Linked DNA regions of Homo sapiens: region 2 is linked to region 1. The links come from fine-mapping of genetic effects on gene expression. A gene starts in region 1. The other region holds a variant in brackets. All regions are shown on one strand. Distances are from middle to middle.

Evidence for each region. PIP is the estimated chance that this variant, and not a neighbour inherited with it, causes the effect.
Region 2: its variant is fine-mapped to the expression of GNG10 in whole blood (TOPMed, PIP 0.95).

Annotation. Positions count from the first base shown.
Region 1 is chr9:111,659,120-111,664,490 of GRCh38, reverse strand. It overlaps GNG10 (G protein subunit gamma 10), which reads right to left and starts at 2,886. Exons shown (of 3, transcript NM_001017998.4): 1 at 2,776-2,886. The coding sequence starts at 2,856. The region is part of intron 1 of DNAJC25-GNG10 (DNAJC25-GNG10 readthrough); the gene reads right to left. RefSeq lists enhancers at 1,826-1,875, 2,076-2,175, 3,246-3,305 and silencers at 2,466-2,585, 2,616-3,065.
Region 2 is chr9:112,066,573-112,071,943 of GRCh38, reverse strand. The region is part of intron 12 of SUSD1 (sushi domain containing 1); the gene reads left to right. Among named protein-coding and RNA genes, the nearest start is that of LINC02977, 29 kb to the right of the region's middle. The variant A/C (reference allele first, on the strand shown) is at 2,196.

The DNA of each region.
Region 1 (5,371 bases):
GCATTCCTATAGCTGGGAAGGGATGTCCTCTATTATATGCTAGAAAATTGGTGTCCTGGTTTATTTTTCAGATAGCAAGTCTGTCAAAGAGAAGACACCTCTGGCTATGCTAAGCACATCCAACAATGAATGAGGATGTGAGGTAGACCAGACCCTGGAATGGTTGTGACTCTCTAAGGTATTGTCTGAGGGAAGCCCTGCCAAGTACCCCAGATCATACTTCCATGAGCGCACCTCTTAAATAGGCTTATTATCCTATTTGTAAATAAGCTTACTGCGAGCTCAGGCAATTCACCTGAATTATATGGCTCTCAGTTTCATCATCATTTTTAAAAGGTAGATAAGCACATCTTTCCGGCCAGGTGCCATGGCTCATGCCTGTAATCCCAGCACTTTGGGAGCTTGAGGCGGGAGGATCACCTGAGGTCAGGAGATCGATACCAGCCTGGCCAATATGGTGAAACTCCATCTCTACTAAAAATACAAAAAAAAAAAAAAAGCCAATTAGTGGACGTGGTGGCAGGTGCCCGTAATCCCAGCTACTCGGGAGGCTGAGGCAGGAGAATCGCTTGAACCTGGGAGGCAGAGGTTGCAGTGAGCTGAGATCATGCCATTGCACTCCAACCTGGGCAACAAGAATGAAACTCCATCTCAAAAAAAAAAAAAAAAGAATATCTTTCCTCTTTCTTAGCTACTTGGCGGGTAGACAGGCATCTGACTGGCTCACAGTTTTCCTTTCTACCTCATGTCCCCACATTGTCTTTGTGAATTTCCAACAACCCTCATTTCAGTTCCCTGACTTCTTCCCCTCAAACAGCCTTCTCCTCAATGCCAACAGATACAGTTACAACACCTGTAACTGCTCCACTTCTGAAATTTTACACTCCAGTATCCTACTCTCTGATCACAATCTCTCCTTCCCATCCAGGGTGCTGCCTCCTTTATTCTTCCTTTATTCTGCTCTGACCTCACCGAGATCACCAGGCATCACCTCCTCCCCTTCTGTCTCACCTATCACCAGGAGGCTGGCTGCATTCCTTCTCTATCCATCTAGGCTCAGCCTCTTTCTGGCCAGACCTTCACACGCCTTGCCCTCCGGCCCCACCTCCACCTTTCTGGCATACCTCCCCTGCTAACTTACTCCTCTTTCAACTACCGTTCACCTTCAGCACTCACATTCCAGGATGGTAAAGATTGCTGCAGGAAAAAAAAAAAATCACAAATATGACCAGCAGTCTCCCTTGTCACAGCAGCTGGGTCTTCAGTCACAGCGCATCTGCGTGCCTGCTCAGGGGCCACTCCCTTAGTCCCCTTTCCTCTGCCTTAGAAGAAAACCTGGCCTCCTATTTCACAAAGAAAAGTGTCACCATACAAGTTTAGCCCATATCTAGAAACTTATCTTTACACACACCCTTACCTTCTTTCTTCCTGTCTCAGAAGCTGTGCCACCAATCCCCCACCCCCCCGTAGCCCTGTCTCCTCTACCAGCAATTGGCTTCCATTTGTTTCTTCCCTGGAACCTAAAAATATAATTTGTTACTTCCTCTCAACCCTAAAACATGGCTTTTCATTTCCTAAGTTAAAAAAACACGTTATTTCCTCTTTAAAACTAGGTTTCTTTAAAAAGAAAAAACGTCTGCCTACCCTATGACAGTCCAGATTCTGCTTTTACTAACACATAAGCCACCAGACCTCTGCATTCCACAGCCCTCTCTCCCTTTACCCTGTTTATTATCTTCACTCCACTTAGTACATGAAGCGATGCTATGTATCCGTTAAGTTGCTGTTTACCTTCCCCTCCAGAACCACCCTATTCCCTGTAGCAGTGCCAGGCACACAGCAAAGGAGAAACTGAGGCACAGGGACTATCCTGGTTGTGTTCCTTCTTACAGATCTTCTGCAAATAATGCTGCACTCGTAGCTAAACACAGCTCTACAACAGACGCCTTTTAGCCAACTGACTAAACGCTGGACATGTTGACTGAGCCCCCAGTTTTTGGAAATCCCTACTTCCTTGCTCGGAAACCTTGCTGTCTCTTATTTCCTCTTCTCTAGGCCTTGCTCGGAAACCTTGCTGTCTCTTATTTCCTCTTCTCTCGGCCACCGGCCATCGGTGTGGCTGGTCCCCGGGTCCCAGGCTCTGAGCTCTGCTCTTCATAGAAGAGGCTTTTTCGCCCCAATGCACTTGAATGACCTCTTTCAGCCCTGGGCGCTGAGCTTCAGGCCATGAGGACAAATACCTCCCGGATGACTCCCCGGAGTCCCCAGGTCCGCAGCCGAACTCATCATTTCCCCAAACCTGTTCCCCCTCCTCTCTACCTCGGCGGGTGGCAGCGCCGTCCACCCTGTCACGACGACAGAAACCCGAGCATCCTGGCTCTCCTCCCTCTCGCTCTCATCCTACCAATCCATCACCAATTCGCCGCCCTGCGGTGGCCTCCCCAGCCCTGGGTCCACCCTCCCGGCCCGCGCGTCGCCGGCATCCCTTGCGCCCTCCGAGGAACTGACCACGGCCGCCTTCTGGAGTGGGCGCACCCCCAGGGACCGGGACCGACCACGACCGCGGGGCCCCCCAGGCGCGGCTTCCTCCCGTCAGGCCCGGGCCCCCGGCTTGCCCCGCGCCCTCCCTCACCGCGGACCCCACCGCCCCCGCGCCCCGCCGAGGCCTCGCCGCCGCCACCGAGTCCCCCGCTGGCGCCCGGTCCGGGCCGCCGGCCTCCTCTTCTCACGCCCCGCGGGCGGAAGGACCGGAGCGTGGGTACCCGGGGCCCGCACCTTGATCCTCTCCACGCCAGCCTCCAACTTGAGCTGCTCTACCAAGCGCTGCAGGGCGCTCGCGCTAGCCCCGGAGGACATGGCGGCGGCGCTGGGCTCCTAGGGGCTGCTGGGCCCGGCCGGGCGGGGAGGAGCCGCCAGCCCCGAGCGCGGGTGCCGCCCCGGGGCGGGGAAGCAGCTGCGCCCGCCCCGCCGCCCCAGCCCACCCGGCGCGGAGCCGCTTGCCAGAGACAGCGGGGACCCCAGCGAGCTGGCAGTGCTCTCCGCTCCTCAGCGCCTGAAACCTGGGTGGCACCTGCAGCTGGGCCTGGAACCGAGGCGGGGACCCGCAGAGCGCGGCGTCCTCCAGCGAAGCTGGCGCCCCTAGGATGAGCAGGAATCGCGAGGGCGTGGGACGCGAGGATGGAGTGGGCGGCAGCAAACACGCACCCCTGAGAAATGAGAACTGGAGCCAAGGTGTGACATGAGTTGGAGAGATAAGGGGCCTTGCCAGACAGTATCACCGGGGAACCAAGGAGAGTTCATAGGATTTTCATGAGGCAGCAACAGGTTTCTAAATGACCCTGTTACTGTTTCACGGAGATCCTACCAGTTGATTTGGTGGAGTATGGTAAATTGGATAAAATCCCAGACCCTGACATCTTTGTGAAACATACAGAATAAAATTAAATTCAGCGTTTCTCACTCTCATCTCACCATTTAACTGTCATCATTGTTTCTATTCTGCTGCTTTTTTTTTTTTTTTTTTTTTTTTTGAGACAGGGTCTTGCTCTGTCACCCGGGGTGGAGTGCAGTGGCGTGATCACAGCTCCTTGTAGCCTCCACCTCGTGGGCTCAGGTGATCCTCCTGCCTCAGCCTCCTGAGTAGCTGGGACTACAGACACACACCACCACGCCCGGCTAATTTTTGTATTTTTAGTAGAGACGGGGTTTCACGATGTTGGCCAGGCTGGTGTTGAACTCCTGGGCTCAGGTGATCCTCCCACCTCAGCCTCCCAAAGTGCTGGCATTATAGGCCTACTGCATTTTTTAATAAGTGTTTTACAAAACTGGGATCGTTACTATATTTAAAATTTTTGTGTTGCTTTTTTCCATGTATCATTAATACGTCATTATTCTTGTACACCATTGTATTTGTCAGAACTCACTTAAACTGAATATTGCAAAAGGTAATATATTGGCTTGTGTAACTGAAAAGTCCAGGGACTTTAAACTAGTGAATTCAATTACCCAAATAATAATTTTGGGGCTCTCATCCTCCTTGTTTTGATTCTGCTTTTCCTGAGATTAGCCTCATTTTCCTTGGTGGTAGATGGACTTCTCTAGTGGTATGAAGGAAGGCACCACACTTTCACTGTCCCCATCTAGCAAACCCAGGAAAAATAGTACCTCTTTTCTTTCTAATCGTTCCAGCAAAAATCCCCATAATGAACCTCACTGGCTGGTATTAAGTCATGGGCCCACCCCTGGCCCAATTACTCTTTGAAGGCAAGGATGTGTGGCATTGACGTGCTCAGATTAGCTGTGCCTGGGCCAAAGGGAGACTTGCACATTTGAAAGCCCTCTCTAGTGGCCAATTTCCTCACCACAAAGAAATTAATATATATCTTAGTAAAGAGATGAAAGTACATGTTGGGAACATTCAACAATCAATTCTGAGACTGATGAATAGGACAAAATAGAATGATTTCATATTTAAAAGATATGGCAAAGAACTCAGTGCAAAGATATACATACTGGATTAGGAAAGGCTCATCATAGATCGTGAGAGCTGGACTTTGGAGATACGTGTCTTGCAGATGGCTCAGAAGGAAGAACAGTCCAGTATGGAGGACAGCTGGAGGCGATGCACACATGTAGAGTGAATAAATTTAAAAATAGAGGAAGCTCTAGTGACTAATAGCAGATACAAAGTTGCTAGGGCCAGAAGTCATAGAAAACCTCACATACACACAAAAGTTTATGGTAAACAGTGGGATAGCCACAGGGTAAGGCATTTTGGGAATATTAATCTGAGATGAATGTGCAAAATGAACTGAAGTTGAGAAGATAAATGGCTGATGGTGGGGGAGTAGCTGGAATGAGGCCCTGGGTAGGACTGTTAGAGTAGGAATGAGGGGGAACAAATTTAGAAGACAAAATCAGTGGTACTTCATGGTGGTTATGAAATGCAAAGAAAAGAGGACAAAGGGTTCTGTAGCAGAGAGTGGGCCAGAACTAATGCCAAAACAGAAATTAGGAAACAAGACTTGGCTTGAGATGAGTAAAAAATAATGTGGGGTTTGGTTTAGGAGTAACGAAGTGACTTCCATGGCATTGCTACATGCCTTTAGGCTGCTGAAAATGTTTAGTAGCCAAGATGTTAATGTGAAGATGTCTCCACAGCAATGGCAGCTGAAATAATGAGATTACCTCAAAATCATTAGAAATGAAGGCTTTGGAGTTGCCCTCAATGAAGGGACACACGTCAGCCATGTCATACTGTATCAGCCACGAGGTAGCAGGAAAAGTCTAGGGGTGTGCTGTGTCTGCCTCCTTCATGCCCTACACACCCACTGCCCCGCCCACCTCAGTGTTACTTTGCACCGTTCAAGAG
Region 2 (5,371 bases), 410 kb before region 1:
CTAGCTGATGACTTGTAGTGGAAGACACTATTTTTTCTGTTGCCTTCAATTTTAATTTACCATGCCTTGGATGGGATGATATATCTGGAGAGGTGCCTGAGGATTAGAAAAGAACCATCATGCTGTGTTTATTTTTCTACCTACTTTTTATTATAGAAAATCCAGAAAAGTAGCATTGTACTGGGTTTTTGGGCGGTGGAGTTGTGTTTTAATTCAATTGTTTGTGTTTACTTGAAGTTTGCAGTACAAAGTTGGAGACGTTGCTTAGTTTTGATGCAGATAAAATTTTCTTCCATTTTTGGTTCTTTTTGTTCATTTTGATGGGTTTTACATAGAGACATTTTAACACATTTGTACTTATACTACCCTTTTTCTTTGGTTGATTTAATAGTTTACCTTCATTAGTGATATTAATATTTTGATAAATATTACAAATTCCTACTCCAAGGCTATTTACTCTTTTGTTTTCTTTTCAATTTTTTTTGAGACTGAGTTTCATTATGTTGCCCTGGCTGGAGTGCTGTGGCACAATCATAGCTTACTGCAGCCTCAAACTCCTGGGCTCAAGCAGTCCTCCTGCCTCAGCCTCCCAAGTAGCTGAGACTACAGGTGCATGTCACCACACCCTGCTAATTTTTTCTTTTTGTAAAGATGAGGTCTTACTATGTTGCCCAGGCTGGTCTCAAACTCCTGAGCCCAAGCAATCATTTTTGCCTAGGCCTCCCAAAAAGCCAGGATTATAGGTGGGAGCCACTGCACCTGACCTACTTTTTTGCACTTAAAATTTAGTTTCAGGCTGGGCACAGTGGCACATTCCTATAATTCCAGCGCTCTAGGAGGCTGAGGAGAGAGGACTGCTTGAGTCCAGGAGTTCAAAGCTGCAGTGAACTATGATCATGCCAGTGCACCCCAGCCTGGGCGACACAGTGAGACCACTTTTCTACAACAAACAAACAAACAAAACCAAAACAAAACCACTTAGGTTCATTTGGAATTTATTTTGATGTCTGATATGAGGCTAAATTTACATTGTAATTTTTCTCCCCAGCTGTAAGCCAGTTCCCTATCACCTTTGGAACTACTGACCATCCATGCCACCTGGTGCATTTCTTTGGGTCTCTTTCCAGACTGTCTAGCTTTTTTTCACTGTTTGTCTGTCCTGTGCGTGTACTTTACTATTTCAATTGCTGTAATTTTATGATACATTTAATATTTTTTTTTGCAGAGCAAATTCTCCTTCATTACTTTTCCCCACATTTCCCTCCATGTGAGGATTTCTTTTGCCATTTGCTTCTAGCAGAGGAGGGATATTCCTGACATCCGAGGATGGTAATGAAGGTCTCTGTTCTGGTTCCTCTCCCATCTCACACACCCAAGGTGAAAGAGCTATATTTTCCAGCACAGGCAGGACCCATTTCTTGCCTTGGGTCTAAATCAGTTTAAATCAGTAACGAGGTTGATGGAAAGGAGAGCAGGTCTACCCAGGACATCAGTTTGGGAGACAAGGAAGAGCACCTTGGAAAATTCAGCTGAAAGTCAAGTTTGTTCCACCTCGAAATGTGGCTGAGAACCAGCCTGACGAGGCTTAGGCTTGTACATTGGAGAGAAAAAGTAGACTGTTTAAAATATAAGGCAGCGGCTGGGCGTGGTGGCTCATGCCTGTAATGCCAGCACTTTGGGAGGCCGAGGCAGGTGGAATCACCTGGGGTCAGGAGTTCGGGACCAGCCTGGCCAACATGGAGAAACCCCGTCTCTACTAAAAATACAAAAATCAGCCGTGTGTGGTGGTGCATGCCTGTAATCCCAGCTACTCGGGAGGCTGTGGCAGGAGAATTGCTTGAGCCCGGGAGGCGGAGGCTGCAGTGAGCTGAGATCACACCATTGCACTCCAGCCTGGGCGACAAGAGCGAAACTCCATCTCAAAAAGCAAAAGCAAAAACAAAAACAAAAACAAATAAAATAAAATATAGGGCAGGGAGACCTTAGGCAAACAGAGCAGAAAATGGTCTCAAAGTCACATGTTGATTGAACCAGATGACTGTGGTGCCTTGAAAACTGTGACTCTAGATTGGGAAAGAGTGACATCACCTGGACCAAGCAGGGGGATGGCCTTCCTGCTCGGTCTGCAGTTGCCTCTTCTGAGCTCAGTGAGTACTTTGTTCTGCTTCTCCTGTGTGGTTTTAAAATGTTAGCCA[A/C]GAGATTAGAGGAACTAGAATTATTACTCTTGGAGTAAAGAGCTGGTGGGGGCGGGGCGGGGTGGGGTGGGGCGGAGTTCTCACACAGAAAAGAGTGACCAGTTAATCTCCACCTTGGCTGAGAAGAGGAGACACGTAATAAAAAAAGTTAATTTTACTGTGACAACAAAACGTCACAAGTGAAAGGGCATTTCGGTGATAGCAAAGGGCCTGAGGGCAGTTCGATCTCAAAGGGGAAGGGGTACGTTCCCAGGGGACATGTGTGGGCTTTTCCTCTCTCCTCCATCACTGCCACAGGAATCCAGCTGTTGTCTTCTCAGCTGTATCCTACAGAATCTCTCTCTGGACTGCTCTTGAAAATAGCATAGACCTTCATTTCAACAAATGAGTGATGTGAGGCCTAGACTCTAAGCAGAGGCTTTTCCAGGTGACCTCCTGGGACACCTGGCAATGCCGCAGGTTTAGGAAAAACATGATCTATATTGCAGTGTCTAAGAGACTCTGGGAGAAATTCTAGACCTAACACTGTTTCATAAAGGCCACAGAGTTCTCTTACTCTTCCACCTGGTCTTAGAGCCTGGGTTTCTCGGTGGTCCGCCCTTGGCCCCCATCTCTCCTCACATACTTTGATACTGGCTCCCTGGTGGCCACGTTCACTCCTCCCTGTGAGCTGCCTCTGTATCTCCACCATGGGGTTTGCTCCTAGGCTCCAGACCTATGTTTCTAACTGCCTGCTGGAGGATTCCTTATACACTTCAACCTGAACAGACCTAGAAGTGAGCTGCTTCTCGTCTTCCCCCAGACTTGGTAAATGACATCACTGCTGACTTGGTTGCCAGATTCCTGCCGTCTCTCCCCTGAGCAAGGTTTCCGTTTGTTCCCTCTTCTCCATTCTCAGTGCTCTCACTTGCAGCAGACCTCGAGCACTTCCGACCTGGATTATTGGACAACCTGTATTTTTGCCCTTTTTCTATTCATCCTTTGATCAGCTCTCTAAGTTGTATTTTTGAAGTGCAGAACGGCTAAAAATATTTTTTTTTTTTTTTTTTGAGACAGGGTCTAGCTGTTGCCCAGGCTGGAGTGCAGTGGTGCAATCTTGGCTCACTGCAACCTCTGCCTCCCGGGCTCAAGCAATCCTCCCACCTTGGCCTCATGAGTAGCTGGGATCACAGGTGTACACCACTGTGCCTGACTAATTTAAAACATTTTTTGTAGAGACAAGGTTTCACCATGTTGCCCAAGCTGGTCTTGAACTCTTGGCCTCAAACAACCTGCTTGCCTCAAGTGCTGGGATTACAGGCATGAGCCAGTGCACCCAGCCTGCTAAAAATCTTTCAATGGCTTCTTATTACTTCTGGAACCTCAGATCTCTCAGATCTGACCCACACCTACCCCTCTAACTTGACCACCTACTTCTACTCTGCCAGACCTCAACCTTTCAGCCAGGAACTCCATGTAGTTCTATCCCTCCCTGCCACCACCTCATGCCTCTGCAGATGTCTATTTCCGTGTTTGATAGGCTCAGCTCCCTGCCTTCAGTTAGATGTTCCTCCTCACATCCACAGTGCTCTGTATATAACTCCATCACAGCTCTGGGCACTACCTTTACAAAACTGTCTCCATGATTACACTCCAAGCTCCCAGAAAGCAGAAAGCATGTCTTCTGTGCTTGTCTCCCCCAGCCTAGCACAGAGCCTGCGGCAGAGGTGGCTAATGGGTGTTTGTTGAATGCAGATATATGAATAATATATATAGTAGTGCTTTAACAACTGTAAAGGTCCAGGCAGGTCTAAGTTTTTATTTATTATAATTTGAGATTGAGGGTTTCTACCCCAAAGCTATTTTCTAATCTGGTAAATACAGTCTTGAGAATCTATTTTGGCCTCAGAGTCCTTCAGTTCACAGTGGCAGGGTTTAGGGCTAGGGTGGGGGGATTGGGGGGGAGGCATTCATACATATGTTTTTAATAGCTCTTTCTCTTTCCTTCCATCATGCCCTTCCTCCCTTGCCCTACTGAGCTGATGCAGTGATAGACTTTGAAGGAGGGGTGGTTTAGTCCAGGGTCTAAAGGGGATTCTTAAGGCAGTTCTTCCTGCTGTCCTCACTGTCTCCACCACCCAAGGGGTTTAGCATTTGCCTGGAATTCACAGCAATTCTTCTTGCACAAATGCATAAGGACCACTTCCCTACCGTGTTCACTTGGCCTAGCACCAGAGTTCCTGCCAGTACACAGCTGAGGGTTCTGCCTTTCCACAGAATACCAAGGCGCTGGATGCATTCTATAGTCAGGGCTCTTTTGGTTGCAAGTGACAGAAACCCAACTCCAACCAGCTTAAGCATGTGGAATCTGTGGGATCACAGAACTGGGAAGGCCCAGGATGGATCTTGTTTGGAGACAGCAAGCTTCAGTCACACGTGGTGTCACCACAGGCCCGTTGCTCTTCCAGCCATGAGGCCCTCTTTCTGCCAAATTCTTCCAGCCAGACCTGGGAGGATGGACATTGTACTATTGGCCTACCTGGTACTTACAGCTACAATCTAAGAAGAAGAATAAAACCCTCCAATCTTCTAGGCCTGGTGTGGTGGCTCACGCCTGTAATCCCAGCACTTTGGGAGGCAGAGGTGGGCGGATCACCTGAGGTGAGGAGTGTTGAGACCAGCCTGGCCAACATGGTGAAACCCCATCTCTACTAAAAATACAAAAATTAGCTGTGCATGGTGGTGTATGCCTTGTAGTCCCAGCTACTCGGGAGGCTGAGGTAGAAGAAGAGCTTGAACCTGGGAGGCAGAGATTGCAGTGAGCCAAGATCATGCCACTGTACTCCAGCCTGGGTGACAGAGTGAGACTCCATCTCAAAAAAACAGATAAACAACAAAAAATAAAACCTCCAATCTCCTAAACAGATTGCTCTTTTTGAGCCATCTTCTGACTGGGGAATGGCAATCCATAATCACTGGGCCCTGGGCCAGTGGGGATTTGGAGTACTGGGAATGCTGGCCCCATAAGAACCATATGGGAAGGAGAAGGGCCGCTCTCCACAGAAAAAGGGATGCTGAGCACTTACATATAAAGTATGTAACATATGAAAAGACAACACGTACGGACTCGGAGAATCTCAGGCACAAGGTGTCCCATCTTTGGGAGTTTCGCGATTACAGGGTTGCAGCTTTCCATG